Linked DNA regions of Homo sapiens. The protein of the gene in region 4 purifies or fractionates together with the protein of the main gene of each other region. This does not show direct contact. Each region holds a gene or a part of one and is shown on either strand. Other genes may lie near its edges.

Region 1 (2,993 bases), on a different chromosome or scaffold from region 4:
GGAAATGGATGGACTGTGTTTCAGAAGGTAATTTTTTCCCCACCATGTGTATTTAATAAATTCCTACATTGTTTCTGCCATATGGCAGATACTTTTCTAAGCACCTTGTGAACCGTAGCTCATTTAATCCTTGCAATAGCCCTAAGAGGAAGGTACTTCTGTTACTCCTATTTACAGAAAAGGAAACTGAGGCACACAAGGTTAAATAACTTGCCCAAGACCACATAACTAATAAGCAACAGAGTCAGCATTTGAACCTAGGCAGTATAGTTTCAGAGTTTGTGACTTGACTCTATATTGTACTGGCACTGACTTTGTAGATTCATGGTGGCACATAATCATAGTACCACAGTGACAAATAAAAAGAAGGAAACTCTTTTGTCAGGTAGGTCAAGACCTGAGGTTTCCCATCACAAGATGAGGAAGCCCAACACCACCCCCCACCACCCCACCACCATCACCACCCTTTCACACACCAGAGGATACACTTGGGCTGCTCCAAGACAAGGAACCTGTGTTGCATCTGCCACTTGCTGATACCCACTAGGAATCTTGGCTCCTTTACTTTCTGTTTACCTCCCACCACTGTTATAACTGTTTCTACAGGGGGCGCTCAGAGGGAATGAATGGTGGAAGCATTAGTTGCCAGACACCGATTGAGCAATGGGTTCCATCATAAGTGTAAGAATCAGTAATATCCAGCTAGAGTTCTGAAGTCGTCTAGGTGTCTTTTTAATATTACCACTCATTTAGAATTTATGATGTGCCAGAAACCCTCTTAAGTATTTCTCTTATATTCTCTCTCATGATCCTTGCAGCAACCCTAAGAAGTAACCATCATTTTTCCTATTTGATACATGAGGAAACTGAGGTAGCTTGGCCAAGATCACTTAGTTGGGAGTTGATAGAACCAGTGCTCTGTATTTTTGACAAAATGTTGACAGCATTCTCTTTACATGCATTGATAGTCTATTTTCTCCTTTTGCTCTTGCAAATGTGTAATTAGAGACTTGATGGCAGTGTAGATTTCAAGAAAAACTGGATTCAATATAAAGAAGGATTTGGACATCTGTCTCCTACTGGCACAACAGAATTTTGGCTGGGAAATGAGAAGATTCATTTGATAAGCACACAGTCTGCCATCCCATATGCATTAAGAGTGGAACTGGAAGACTGGAATGGCAGAACCAGGTACTGTTTTGAAATGACTTCCAACTTTTTATTGTAAAGATTGCCTGGAATGTGCACTTTCCAACTATCAATAGACAATGGCAAATGCAGCCTGACAAATGCAAACAGCACATCCAGCCACCATTTTCTCCAGGAGTCTGTTTGGTTCTTGGGCAATCCAAAAAGGTAAATTCTATTCAGGATGAATCTAAGTGTATTGGTACAATCTAATTACCCTGGAACCATTCAGAGTAATAGCTAATTACTGAACTTTTAATCAGTCCCAGGAATTGAGCATAAAATTATAATTTTATCTAGTCTAAATTACTATTTCATGAAGCAGGTATTATTATTAATCCCATTTTATAGATTAACTTGCTCAAAGTCACATTGCTGATAAGTGGTAGAGGTAGAATTCAGACTCAAGTAGTTTAACTTTAGAGCCTGTCCTCTTAACAACTATCCTGGTTGAAAAGCAAATACAGCCTCTTCAGACTTCTCAGTGCCTTGATGGCCATTTATTCTGTCAAATCATGAGCTACCCTAAAAGTAAACCAGCTAGCTCTTTTGATGATCTAGAGGCTTCTTTTTGCTTGAGATATTTGAAGGTTTTAAGCATTGTTACCTAATTAAAATGCAGAAAAATATCCAACCCTCTTGTTATGTATAAGGAATAGTGAAATATATTGTCTTCAAACACATGGACTTTTTTTTATTGCTTGGTTGGTTTTTAATCCAGAAAGTGCTATAGTCAGTAGACCTTCTTCTAGGAAAGGACCTTCCATTTCCCAGCCACTGGAGATTAGAAAATAAGCTAAATATTTTCTGGAAATTTCTGTTCATTCATTAAGGCCCATCCTTTCCCCCACTCTATAGAAGTGTTGTCCACTTGCACAATTTTTTCCAGGAAAGAATCTCTCTAACTCCTTCAGCTCACATGCTTTGGACCACACAGGGAAGACTTTGATTGTGTAATGCCCTCAGAAGCTCTCCTTCTTGCCACTACCACACTGATTTGAGGAAGAAAATCCCTTTAGCACCTAACCCTTCAGGTGCTATGAGTGGCTAATGGAACTGTACCTCCTTCAAGTTTTGTGCAATAATTAAGGGTCACTCACTGTCAGATACTTTCTGTGATCTATGATAATGTGTGTGCAACACATAACATTTCAATAAAAGTAGAAAATATGAAATTAGAGTCATCTACACATCTGGATTTGATCTTAGAATGAAACAAGCAAAAAAGCATCCAAGTGAGTGCAATTATTAGTTTTCAGAGATGCTTCAAAGGCTTCTAGGCCCATCCCGGGAAGTGTTAATGAGCTGTGGACTGGTTCACATATCTATTGCCTCTTGCCAGATTTGCAAAAAACTTCACTCAATGAGCAAATTTCAGCCTTAAGAAACAAAGTCAAAAATTCCAAGGAAGCATCCTACGAAAGAGGGAACTTCTGAGATCCCTGAGGAGGGTCAGCATGTGATGGTTGTATTTCCTTCTTCTCAGTACTGCAGACTATGCCATGTTCAAGGTGGGACCTGAAGCTGACAAGTACCGCCTAACATATGCCTACTTCGCTGGTGGGGATGCTGGAGATGCCTTTGATGGCTTTGATTTTGGCGATGATCCTAGTGACAAGTTTTTCACATCCCATAATGGCATGCAGTTCAGTACCTGGGACAATGACAATGATAAGTTTGAAGGCAACTGTGCTGAACAGGATGGATCTGGTTGGTGGATGAACAAGTGTCACGCTGGCCATCTCAATGGAGTTTATTACCAAGGTATGTTTTCCTTTCTTAGATTCCAAGTTAATGTATAGTGT
Region 2 (3,500 bases), on a different chromosome or scaffold from region 4:
ACTGGGGAGGGGGACAAAGTCACTGATTTGCCCTCAAAATCATCATAACCCTAATTCTTTTCCAGCAAGGAAGACGACTCACCGGCAATTTTAAGGGAGGGACGAGGAGTCCGACGAGGGAGACGCCTGGGGGAAGCACTGAGCCGGAGAAAGAACCTAGGAGCTTCTTGGACCCCGGGGCTATCAGAGGAACGACCAGCATGGGGAGCTGCGGCACCGAGGACAAGCTGACACTACGGTTTTGTTTGGTTTGGTTTTCTTTTTTTAAGACAGAGTCTCACTCTGTCGCCCAGGCTGGAGTGCAGTGGCGCGATCTCTGCTCACTGCAAGCTCCGCCTCCCGGGTTCACGCCATTCTCCTGTCTCAGCCTCCCGAGTAGCTGGGACTACAGGCGCCCGCCACCACGCCCGGCTAATTTTTTGTATTTTTAGTAGAGACAGGGTTTCACCGTGTTAGCCAGGATGGTCTCGATCTCCTGACCTCGTGATCCGCCCGCCTTGGCCTCCCAAAGTGCTGGGATTACAGGCGTGAGCCACCGCGTCCAGCCGGTTTTTCTTTTACATATGTTGCCTATGTCCCTTTTTCCTTAACAAATTTGTAAAATTTGTCAGCTGAAAGGGGCCTCGGGGATCATGAAGTTATAATCCAGTCCCTCTATTTCCAGACTGAAAAATGGCCTCATGATTGGCCCAAAGTCATACTTTGTTAGAGGCGCAGCTAGGATTCCACTAGGGCCTGTGACAGCTCGTCAGAGAGCAAGACAAAGTAAACTAACACTGAAGCATCAACAGTTTCTACCAAGTGATGAGATGATACAAGAATTGCCCAGAAATCCAAGTTGTTTACAGGCTTGAAGGGAAAGAATTTAGCTTGTGTAGTAAAAATATCCAGAGAATCCTCCAGATGTTTTTTTTATCCTTGGAGCAAACATTTATGAGATGGAAGGCCCTGTTTACTTGGTGATTGATAGCAGAACAATTAAAGGGTACTTGCCATCTGTGAGATCCTTAATTGAGTTGTTGATCTGACCTTTCGTTTCTTCCAATTTATCTTTGAAGTCAACAGTTTCCAATTCCTTTGCATACGGTCTCTTCGTAGAGCTGATGAACTCCTGAAAAACATGCAGTTCATAAAATCAGAGTCTGTAGTCAAGCTATTGCATTGTTATTCTCTTCTAACAAAAGGATTATTAAATATCAACTGCTATATGTACACTTTCAAAATTGGTAACACTATATGAATTGAAACCTCATGTAGAAGTCAGTGAATTTCTTTGTATTGAATGTTTCATTTTTTTCAATTATAAGACAATTTCAATTATTAAATGCATCTATCAATTTAATATCAGCTTTGGGGAAAACACTATGTTAAATATGCCCAATTCTCTTATGGGTTGTAATTTCAGAAACATGAAAATTTTGTATGTCTACAGATACATATATATTAGAATATAGGAAATGTATAGAAAACAGAATTATGAGCAGAAAACTCTTGTCTTTGCTGAACTAAATATCCTGTAGACCCTTGCTACTCAAACTGTGGTCCAAGGTGGTGTACAGCATCACCTGAGACCTTGTTAGAAATAAAGAATCTCAGACCCCACCCCAGACATACTGAATCAGAATGCATTTTAACAAAATTTCCAGGTGTGCCATCTGCAAATTAAGGTTGGAAACACAATGCAGGAGAGAACATAACAGGAGTTCTTATTCTAATGCTTATTTAAAATGTGCAACCCTAAACCCCATTCCCACCTTGACAATCAGAACTACCTGGGTTTAATCAGAACTACCTGGGTTCAATCAGAACTACCTGGGTGTTAAAAGGGCCTGAAGAACTTGCCCTTTTAACACCCAGATAGTTCTTATGCAAGAGATCCTCCACAGAGCACACTTGTTTGGACCTTTAACTAGTAAATTTGCAGATGCTGTGCACCTAGCAGGAGCAATGGAAAGCAGTCTTTTAAAAAATCTTTTGTAATGAGCCGAGATCATGCCGCTGCACCCCAGCCTGGGCAACAGAGAAAGACTCCATCTCCAAGGAAAAAAACAAAACAAAACTTTACAACTCCTAGTCTGGTTAAGATCATTCCAGATGTTGCATGGAAGTTCAGTGAAACTAAATATAACTTGATTCAGTGTCATGTCAGTTCACTTCCAAGCACAGGGCTTCTTGAATTTCTTCAGAGCAGCTTCAGCCTTAGCCAATTAACTTAGCTTCAGTTAATTGCAAATCAACCTTGGGACTCACTGTCACCATTGACTGACAGAACCAATCTCACCTGAAAACATTAGAAAGCCTCAGCCAGATGAAGGAGGGCCTCCATTGTCCTCACTGCCAGCAATAAAAATGTGTTAATTGTCTCTTTAATGATCATTTAGGGAGCTTCTAGAAATGTTGTATGCTCAGGCTTCAACTCACATCTCAGTTTTTTTTTTTAAATTCTTCAGATGATTGTTGGAAGAAAAATGGTTGTGTGTATGTATCTTTAAGCAACAAAAAATATACTCACAATATCTAGTAACCCATGTCCTCAAAAGATCTTAACCACAAAAATACCTACTGCAGAAAGTTGCAAAATCATGGTAAAATATTTAAAAGCTGGTAGTCTAGCTTTTCGATTTGGAAACCTTGAAATTCTGACCATCCAAACAGGAACTAAATCAACTCTGTGTTACTGAAGTACAGAGGGAAACTTCATGTAGTCTAGAATATTGTCTGTGTGTTTCAAATACAGATTTTTAAATATTACAACAATGGGTACCGTAGTGGTGTTTGTATGATTCCTTAGAGCAATGGCTAAACTTATATAACCAGAGCTGCCTGTGGAGATCCCCATCTGACCAGCCCAGCCAACAAAACTAATTTGTGACTGATGAAAATTGTGAATTCATAGTTATTATTTTTCTTACTGATTTTGAGAAACATCAGAAGAATGTGTGCATAAAAAATGAGGTGGAGAGCTTAAAACATTGTCCCAGGCCATATGCCCTGCTCTTTAAGGAGAAAGAAGTTTAAATCATTAGCTGTCTTACACTCTGTAAGACAGCTCATTGTCTATGGAGCTACATTTATTAGAGAGTTAATTACTCTGTTCTCCATTCTCTCAGAGGAAGGTAAAAGAAAGGGTAAGATTTATTTGAGAGAGAAAAGGAAAGCCCATAAGCTTCTCTGTATTTTGAGTTAGAAGATGTGACTGCAATTGATTCCCACTATACTCAACCTCTCCACTAGGATTTATTTATTTAAAGCCTCAAATCACAAGTGAACATCCTAGAAAGGAATTTCACTGAAAAAAAGTTGTAGGTCTAACAGCATGAAAATGCCACTCCTTGTAAAAAGTTAAGTCTTGCTACTTGCTTTAAACAACTTACTGTAGAAAGATTCAGAGATTTGTCTACGTAGAGCCGCTTGATTAGTTTCAGTGAGTAAAAGGAACTAAGTTTGTTTACATCCGATGTTACTGTTTGAAATCCAAAGGGTACATCTTTGACATTTTC
Region 3 (3,500 bases), about 79 Mb from region 4:
CAACTACTTGGGAGGTTAAGGCAGGAGGATCACTTGAGCCCAGGAGTTTGAGGCTGCAGTGAGCTGTGATCACACCACTGCACTCCAGCCTGGGTGCCAGAGAGAGACTCGGTCTCAAAAAACAAACAAAAACCCACTGTTGTTCTAAGTGAATGCTGTCAGGGGAGGGGCAAAGACACAGGGAACCCCAGCGAACAGACTCCTTCTCCGTCCCATTTAGAATTCCCATGTAGTGCCCCATACAATTAGCTTCTGACCACATGTGTCCTTGGCAGACTGTCCCACCCTCTCTGAGAAAGGATGTGTCTTCCCCTGGTTGAGCCCTTCAGAATAGGAGGGTGACTCCCAATGTCCCCTGGCTGTTTGCTCACAGGCTGGCTTTCCCCCTGGTGTGGTCAACATTGTGCCTGGATTTGGCCCCACGGCTGGGGCCGCCATTGCCTCCCATGAGGATGTGGACAAAGTGGCATTCACAGGCTCCACTGAGGTAAGGTGACCCTGGCCTCAAGCTTGCAGCCTCCTTGGCCCAAGCTCCCCCTGTCCTCAGTGGACGACATGCTCAAGGTGAGCTCCCGGGTGTCAAGCGGAGGCCTTTTCCTCCAGGACGACCCTGTAGGTACCAGGAGGGGTGGGGCAGGGTTGAGCCCTTCGTGGTCTGGTTGCCACACTAGCTGCCCTTGGGAGGGGCCAGTGTCCCATGTGGACTAAGGAGGCCAGGCCTGGCCAGACTCCACATAGCCCAGAGCTGACCGCTTGCCCCAAATCAAAGCATCTTGGCCAGGTCAGACTCCTTGACCAGGACTGCCATTGTGGTTAAAAATTAGCCTTGTGTGGTGGTGTGTGCGTGTGGCCCCAGCTACTTGGAAGGCCGAGGCAGGAGGGTTGCCAGAGCCTGAGAGGTCAAGGCTGCAGTGAGCTGAGATCACGCCACTGCACTCCAGCCTAGGTGACAGAGCGAGACCCTGTCCAAAAGAAAAAAAAAGTGAACGTCTATTTGGTGAAATTCTCTAGGTCTCTCGTGGTCCAGTTGCTCACTCAAGCTGTGGGGGACTCTGTTCTGTGTCTATAGAGTGCTGGACTCTTTTCTCCCGGCACTGAGAGCTTGTTCCTGTCTTTCTGTCCCCACAGATTGGCCGCGTAATCCAGGTTGCTGCTGGGAGCAGCAACCTCAAGAGAGTGACCTTGGAGCTGGGGGGGAAGAGCCCCAACATCATCATGTCAGATGCCGATAGTGAGTTTCCAGCTGGAGAAGGCCTGGCCTTGAAGGTAGCCCTGGCCACCTGTGTTGTGGCTCCAGCCGATCCTGTCGCCCCCCCAGTGCCCAATGGCGTTGGTTGCTGTCCCTCGGGCCTCAGGATAAGACGCCAGCGCAGGGCCTGCATGGCCTGGCCTTGGCCTGTCCCCAGCCTCTCCCTGGCTGCTCTCTGCATCATCAGGCTAGGCCACGCCCCTGCTATCTGACTCATCCACTTGCCGCCATCACGCCCTTTGTCCTGGTTGGCAGTGGGCTCCGAGAGCACCCCTCATCTCCCTGTATCTGTCTCTGGCACCCAGCAGGCATCAACCCTTACAGTGGTGGGAACAGGCTCCATTGGGCAGGCGGCCACCAGGGCCAGGGTCCTCCTCCTCACTGTCACCTTTCTGTCTCCTGCCCACTTCCCGCAGTGGATTGGGCCGTGGAACAGGCCCACTTCGCCCTGTTCTTCAACCAGGGCCAGTGCTGCTGTGCCGGCTCCCGGACCTTCGTGCAGGAGGACATCTATGATGAGTTTGTGGAGCGGAGCGTTGCCCGGGCCAAGTCTCGGGTGGTCGGGAACCCCTTTGATAGCAAGACCGAGCAGGGGCCGCAGGTGAGCCAGGCAGTGCCGCAGGGTCTGGGTGTCTAGAGCCAGCATGAGAAGCAGAGAGGGCATCGGGCTCAGATCAGTTGGGACTGGGTTCAGGTCTCAGCTCTACCACACAGCAGCTGTGTGCCTTTGGGAAGCTATGTTCCCTCCCTCAGCCTTCATTTCCCCATCCCGAGCCGTGCCCTGCCTCATTCACAGGGTGGCTGTGATGTAGAAATTAATCCTGGGAAGCACTTTGTAAATTGCATATATGTAACAAATACCAGGAGTGTCTGCAAAAGGGAGTGTGTGTTTCCAAGACCTTGGTCATCAGTAGAAGTGTATCCACCAGAAGATACACAGCTCTGTGAACCTTCGTGTCTGAGAGCCATGGTATGGCTAGTATAGGGACTTTATTTCACTTCATGTTTTGAGCTGTTTGATTTTATTTATTTATTTATTTACCTATTTATATTTTAGAGACAAGGTCTCTCTTTGTTGCCCAGGCTGGAGTGTAGTGGTGCAATCATACCTCACCTCAGCCTTGAATTCCTGGGCTCAAGGAGTCCTCCTGCTTTGGCCTCTCAAAGTGCTGGGATTACAGACATGAACCACCACACCTGGCCTGGATTTTACTTTTGAGCAGTTGTAGGTTTATAGAAAAATAGAGCTGAACGTACAGAGGGTGCCCATATATTCCTTCGCACCTCCCTGTTCCACCAGTTTCCCCTTTATTCACATCCTGCATGAGTGTGGTTCATCTGTTAGTATTGATGAGCCAATACTGGTACCTTATTATTCACTTAGGTCTGTAGTGTATATTCGGGTTTTTTTTTTTAATTTTTATTTTTTTTGGAGACAGAGTTTTGTTCTGTCACCCAGGCTGCAGTGCAGTGGCACGATCTCGACTCATGCCTCCCGGGTTCAAGCAATTCTTGTGCCTCAGCCTCCTGAGTAGCTGGGACTACAGGTGCGCACCACCACGCCTGGCTAATTTTTTGTGTTTTAGTAGAGACAGGGTTTCACTCTGTTGCCCAGGCTGGTCTCGAACTCCTGAGCTCGGGCAATCTGCTGTCAGGCACCCAGCCTCGGGGTCATTTTTTGTGTTGTACTTACTATGGGCCTAGACAAATGTATCATAATGTGTATGATACCATCATTCTAGTATCATATAAATATATTTGTGCCCTGAAACCCCCGTCCTCCACCTATTCTTCCCTCTTTTCCTCCCCTGAGCCCTGGCAGGCAACCACTGATTTTTTTTTTTTTTTTTTTTTTTGAGACAGAGTCTCGCTCCGTCACCAGGCTGGAGTGCAGTGGCGTGATCTCGGCTCACTGCAACCTGTACCTCCTGGGTTCAAGTGATTCTCCTGCCCCAGCCTCCTGAGTAGCTGGGACTTACAGGTGCATGCCACCATGCCCAGCTAATTTTTGTATTTTTAGTAGAGACAGGGTTTCACCACGTTGGCCAGGATGGTCTCGATCTCCTGACCTCGTGATCCACCCACCTCAGCCTTCCAAAGTGCTGGGATTACAGGCGTGAGCCATTGTGCCTGGCCGATCTTTTTATTGTCTCTATAGTTTTGCCTTTTCCAGATTGTCTTATACGAATCATACAGTAGGTAGCCTTCTCAGACTGGCTTCTTTCTTTTAGCAGTTTGCATTTCTGATTCC
Region 4 (3,500 bases):
TTCAGTCCCCTCCATTCCACCTAAACAGTCTCCTGACAAATGTAGCAATGATGGCCTTATCTGCTACATCCTAAGCAGACACTATATTGAGTAATATAAGCACTGCTTATATTACTCAACCTGTGGGTGGTGTTTGAGACACCATGAAATTCTCTCATCCCTTGGTTTTCAGGGCACCAGCTTCCCCTGGTTTTCCACTCACCTCTCCAGCCATTCTTTGTTAGTGTTCTCTGCGTGCTCCCTTTCTGCCTGCTCAAAGAAGGCATCTTCAGTAACCCTTCTATTCCAAGTCTTGATGCTCTTCCAGAGAGGCTCTGTGTACCTCACTTTTATCCTTATGGTTCTCAAAGTTTTGTCTGCAATTCCATCCTTGATGCCAAATTCTGGACCTATATGAAAATGTAACAACCTCCTGGAAATTTCACACTCAGTATATCCTAAACTAAACTCATCATCTCCCTATCCTCAACTTCCACCCATCTCCTCCTGCTGTAGTCTACTATTTTCAAACCTGGAAGTCATTCTTATCTTCTCCCTCTGTAGTCACCTATCACCAAGCCATATTTTTCCTTCTATGATGGGTCTTGAATTTTTACCCTTCTTTCCATTTCCATTACACAGGGCTCTCTGCCTCTGGTCTTGCTCAGTCAGAACCGTTCTCTAGGACTGTCAGAATTATCTTTCCACATGTGATTGTTTATAACCCTTCCATAATTCCACTAAGTGTTCATGCTTTTAGGCATGACCTACAAGCCCCATTGTGTTTTCAGCTCTGCTTATCACTTCAGCCTCTTCTCCTTCTACTCTTCTCTGCCATTCATCACCACCATCCCCAAACATACCCACATACCAATACCCAAACCACCTGGAACCTCTTTACTTTCCTTAATGCAAGATATTTATCCATATTCATTCTCTCTCTCTTTCCTTCTTTTCCCCCACTCCACACCTTTACATATGCAGCTCTACTTTTGTCTGACTACTTATAATTCTGGATTTAGCTCAGATACCACCTATTTTCTGACCACTTCCTTCCCAGTCTAGCTTAGGTGCCCCAGATAGCAGCCTTGTGTGAGTGTCTCTATCAGAAAAATATATTGTGGCTATTCATTTGCTTATCTGTTCTCCCTCTGGACTTTGAGATTTTTGTGAATGCTCAATCATCTTTATATTCTCAGCACCCTAAAATGGAAGTAGGCCTATAGTAGGCACTGTATAAATATATGATGAGGCCAGCACAGTGGCTCACATCTGTAATCCTAGCACTTTGGGAGGCCCAGGCTGGAGGATCGCTTGAGCCCAGGAGTTTGAGACCAGCTTGGGCAAAATAGGGAGACCCCGAGACCCCACTTCTATTAAAGATAAACAACTTAGCCTGGCGTGATAGTGCCCACCTGTGGTCCCAGCTACTCCGGAGGCTGAAGTGGGAGGATTGCTTGAGCCAGGGAGGTTGAGGCTACAGTGAGCTGTGATTGTGCCACTGTACCCCAGCCTGGGCAACAGAATGAGATCTTCTTTCAAAAAATAAGTATATGGTGAAAGAGTGAAGGAATTAAAGGAAGGAGAAATGAAATATAAATTTTACTTTTTGCCATCTAGGTTCTTTTGTTGCTCAAATTCTAGAAGTATTAGTCATACTATTTTTGGATTATTGTTTTAATAGACAGGGTAAATTGTATTATAATATTTAATCATATTTCCAAGAGTAGAAGGAACACTTGGGGTCAAGAAATTTAAAAATAATGAGTAAGAAATCTCTTCCTGAGATTTCCCCAAATTCTAGAGAGTAGAAATCATAGAAATCAACTTTTTTTCTCTGATTATGAAAGGAAAATTTGGCTCTCTGTGAAAAGGAGAGGGAGCCAGACGTATTTTGTGTAATGAGGAAGATAGATGCCCAAGGTGGTGCCTGTGCCTGTCTGACCTCCCCCTTTCCTCTGCTGGGCTCCACGCCTCATTTCAGTTCCCCAGGCTGCTCCCTGGGACACCTGCCCTGAGACCACACACTGTGTTCTCTTTGGTCCCGCATTGTCAAACTTTGTCCAGCCCTTTTTTGGGGGGGATTTAAGTTTTTATGCCTAGTGAAACTCCCACATGTAAAGGAGTATTCTTTCATATATGTTGAATATTAACTGGACAAAACCATAAACCTGCATAATGACTTAAGGTATTAAACAATGGACCTGGCTTTCCAAAAGAAGAATGGCTGGTTAAACAGTTACTAATGCAGCTAAAAACTGAGACTTGGAGTGTGAGAGAGACAAACTGATGAAACCGATGTTCTAAATCAAACTGATGAAAAAGGTTTTTAAGAATCACCACAAAAAAAATTATAGATGAATTTTTCTAAAACCATGATTTATGACCAGTTGGAGGCTGATGGTTCTGCAAATGAGTAGTAGGATCTTCATAGGTCCTTCCCAGTAAGCATCACAAAAGATGAAAATGGGCCGGACGCGGTGGCTCACGCCTGTAATCCCAGCACTTTACGAGGCCGAGGTGGGCGGATCACTTGAGGTCAGGAGTTTGAGACCAGCCTGGCCAACATGGTGAAAACCCGTCTCTACTAAAAATACAAAAGTTAGCCAGGCATGGTGGTGGATGCCTGTTATCCCAGCTACTCAGGAGGCTGAGGCAGGAAAATTGCTTGAACCCAGGAGGCGGAGGTTGCAATGAGCTGGTATCGTGCCATTGCATTCCAGCCTGGGCGAAGGAGCAAGACTCAGTCTCCAAAATAATAATTAAATAAATAAAAGATGAAAATTGAGTGAGATGTATGATGGTCTAGGAGAGGAGCAGTGAAAAATAGGATATATCATCAAGTGCTAGGTTGTGTGATACATATTAGTGTCTACAGAAATTTAAAGAACACAAGAGCAGGGCCGGGCATGGTGGCTCACACCTGTAATCCCAGCACTTTGGGAGGCTGAGGCTGGCAGATTGCTGGAGCCCAGGAATTTGAAACCAGCCTGGGCAACATGGCAAAACCCCACTTCTACAAAGTACAAGAATTAGCTGGGCATGGTGGTGCATGCCTGTAGCCCCAACTACTCAGGAGGCTGAGGCAACAGAATCACTTGAGCCTGGGAGGTCCAGGCTGCAGTCAGCCATGATCGTGACACTGCACTCCAGCCTGGGCAACAGAGTGAGACCCTGTCTCAAAGCAAAACAAACAAAACCCACAAGAGCATCGTGCTCTGGGATTAGTTGAGGGAGACTAAGCAGAGAGGGTGGATCTTCTCTAGGATTGACAGTCAAATTTGTGACCAAGAGCACTGCAGAGCAGAAAACAGATCATATTGACTTCCCTCCACGTCCTCTTAATTACTACCTGCTTTAGTTCTTTAATTTTTCATCTCTTTCAACTCTACCTTTTTTTTCCATTTCCATTTTTAACAGCCCAGTTCAAGGCTTTTTTGCCTCAGCTGAACCTTTTATAGTGCCCTCAACGCTGTCTCTCTTTCAAGAAACACATATCCATTCCAGAGTCATCTTTCCAA

The links. Proteins that work in one complex are often made in the same cells at the same time.
Region 1: the proteins of PKP2 (region 4) and FGG purify together in Homo sapiens (co-immunoprecipitation; one large-scale study listed by IntAct). This does not show direct contact.
Region 2: the proteins of PKP2 (region 4) and SERPINB5 purify together in Homo sapiens (co-immunoprecipitation; one large-scale study listed by IntAct). This does not show direct contact.
Region 3: the proteins of PKP2 (region 4) and ALDH2 purify together in Homo sapiens (co-immunoprecipitation; one large-scale study listed by IntAct). This does not show direct contact.

Annotation. Positions count from the first base shown.
Region 1 is NC_000004.12:154,606,664-154,609,656, reverse strand, and holds part of FGG (fibrinogen gamma chain isoform gamma-B precursor), read left to right. Parts: coding exon 1-27; intron 28-1,006; coding exon 1,007-1,191; intron 1,192-2,674; coding exon 2,675-2,952; intron 2,953-2,993. UniProt on the Homo sapiens protein: Together with fibrinogen alpha (FGA) and fibrinogen beta (FGB), polymerizes to form an insoluble fibrin matrix. Has a major function in hemostasis as one of the primary components of blood clots.
Region 2 is NC_000018.10:63,486,958-63,490,457, reverse strand, and holds part of SERPINB5 (serpin B5), read right to left. Parts: coding exon 3,375-3,500; intron 1,112-3,374; coding exon 994-1,111; intron 1-993. UniProt on the Homo sapiens protein: Tumor suppressor. It blocks the growth, invasion, and metastatic properties of mammary tumors.
Region 3 is NC_000012.12:111,790,933-111,794,432, forward strand, and holds part of ALDH2 (aldehyde dehydrogenase, mitochondrial isoform 1 precursor), read left to right. Parts: intron 1-373; coding exon 374-487; intron 488-1,128; coding exon 1,129-1,231; intron 1,232-1,665; coding exon 1,666-1,850; intron 1,851-3,500. UniProt on the Homo sapiens protein: Required for clearance of cellular formaldehyde, a cytotoxic and carcinogenic metabolite that induces DNA damage.
Region 4 is NC_000012.12:32,872,778-32,876,277, reverse strand, and holds part of PKP2 (plakophilin-2), read left to right. Parts: intron 1-3,500. UniProt on the Homo sapiens protein: A component of desmosome cell-cell junctions which are required for positive regulation of cellular adhesion.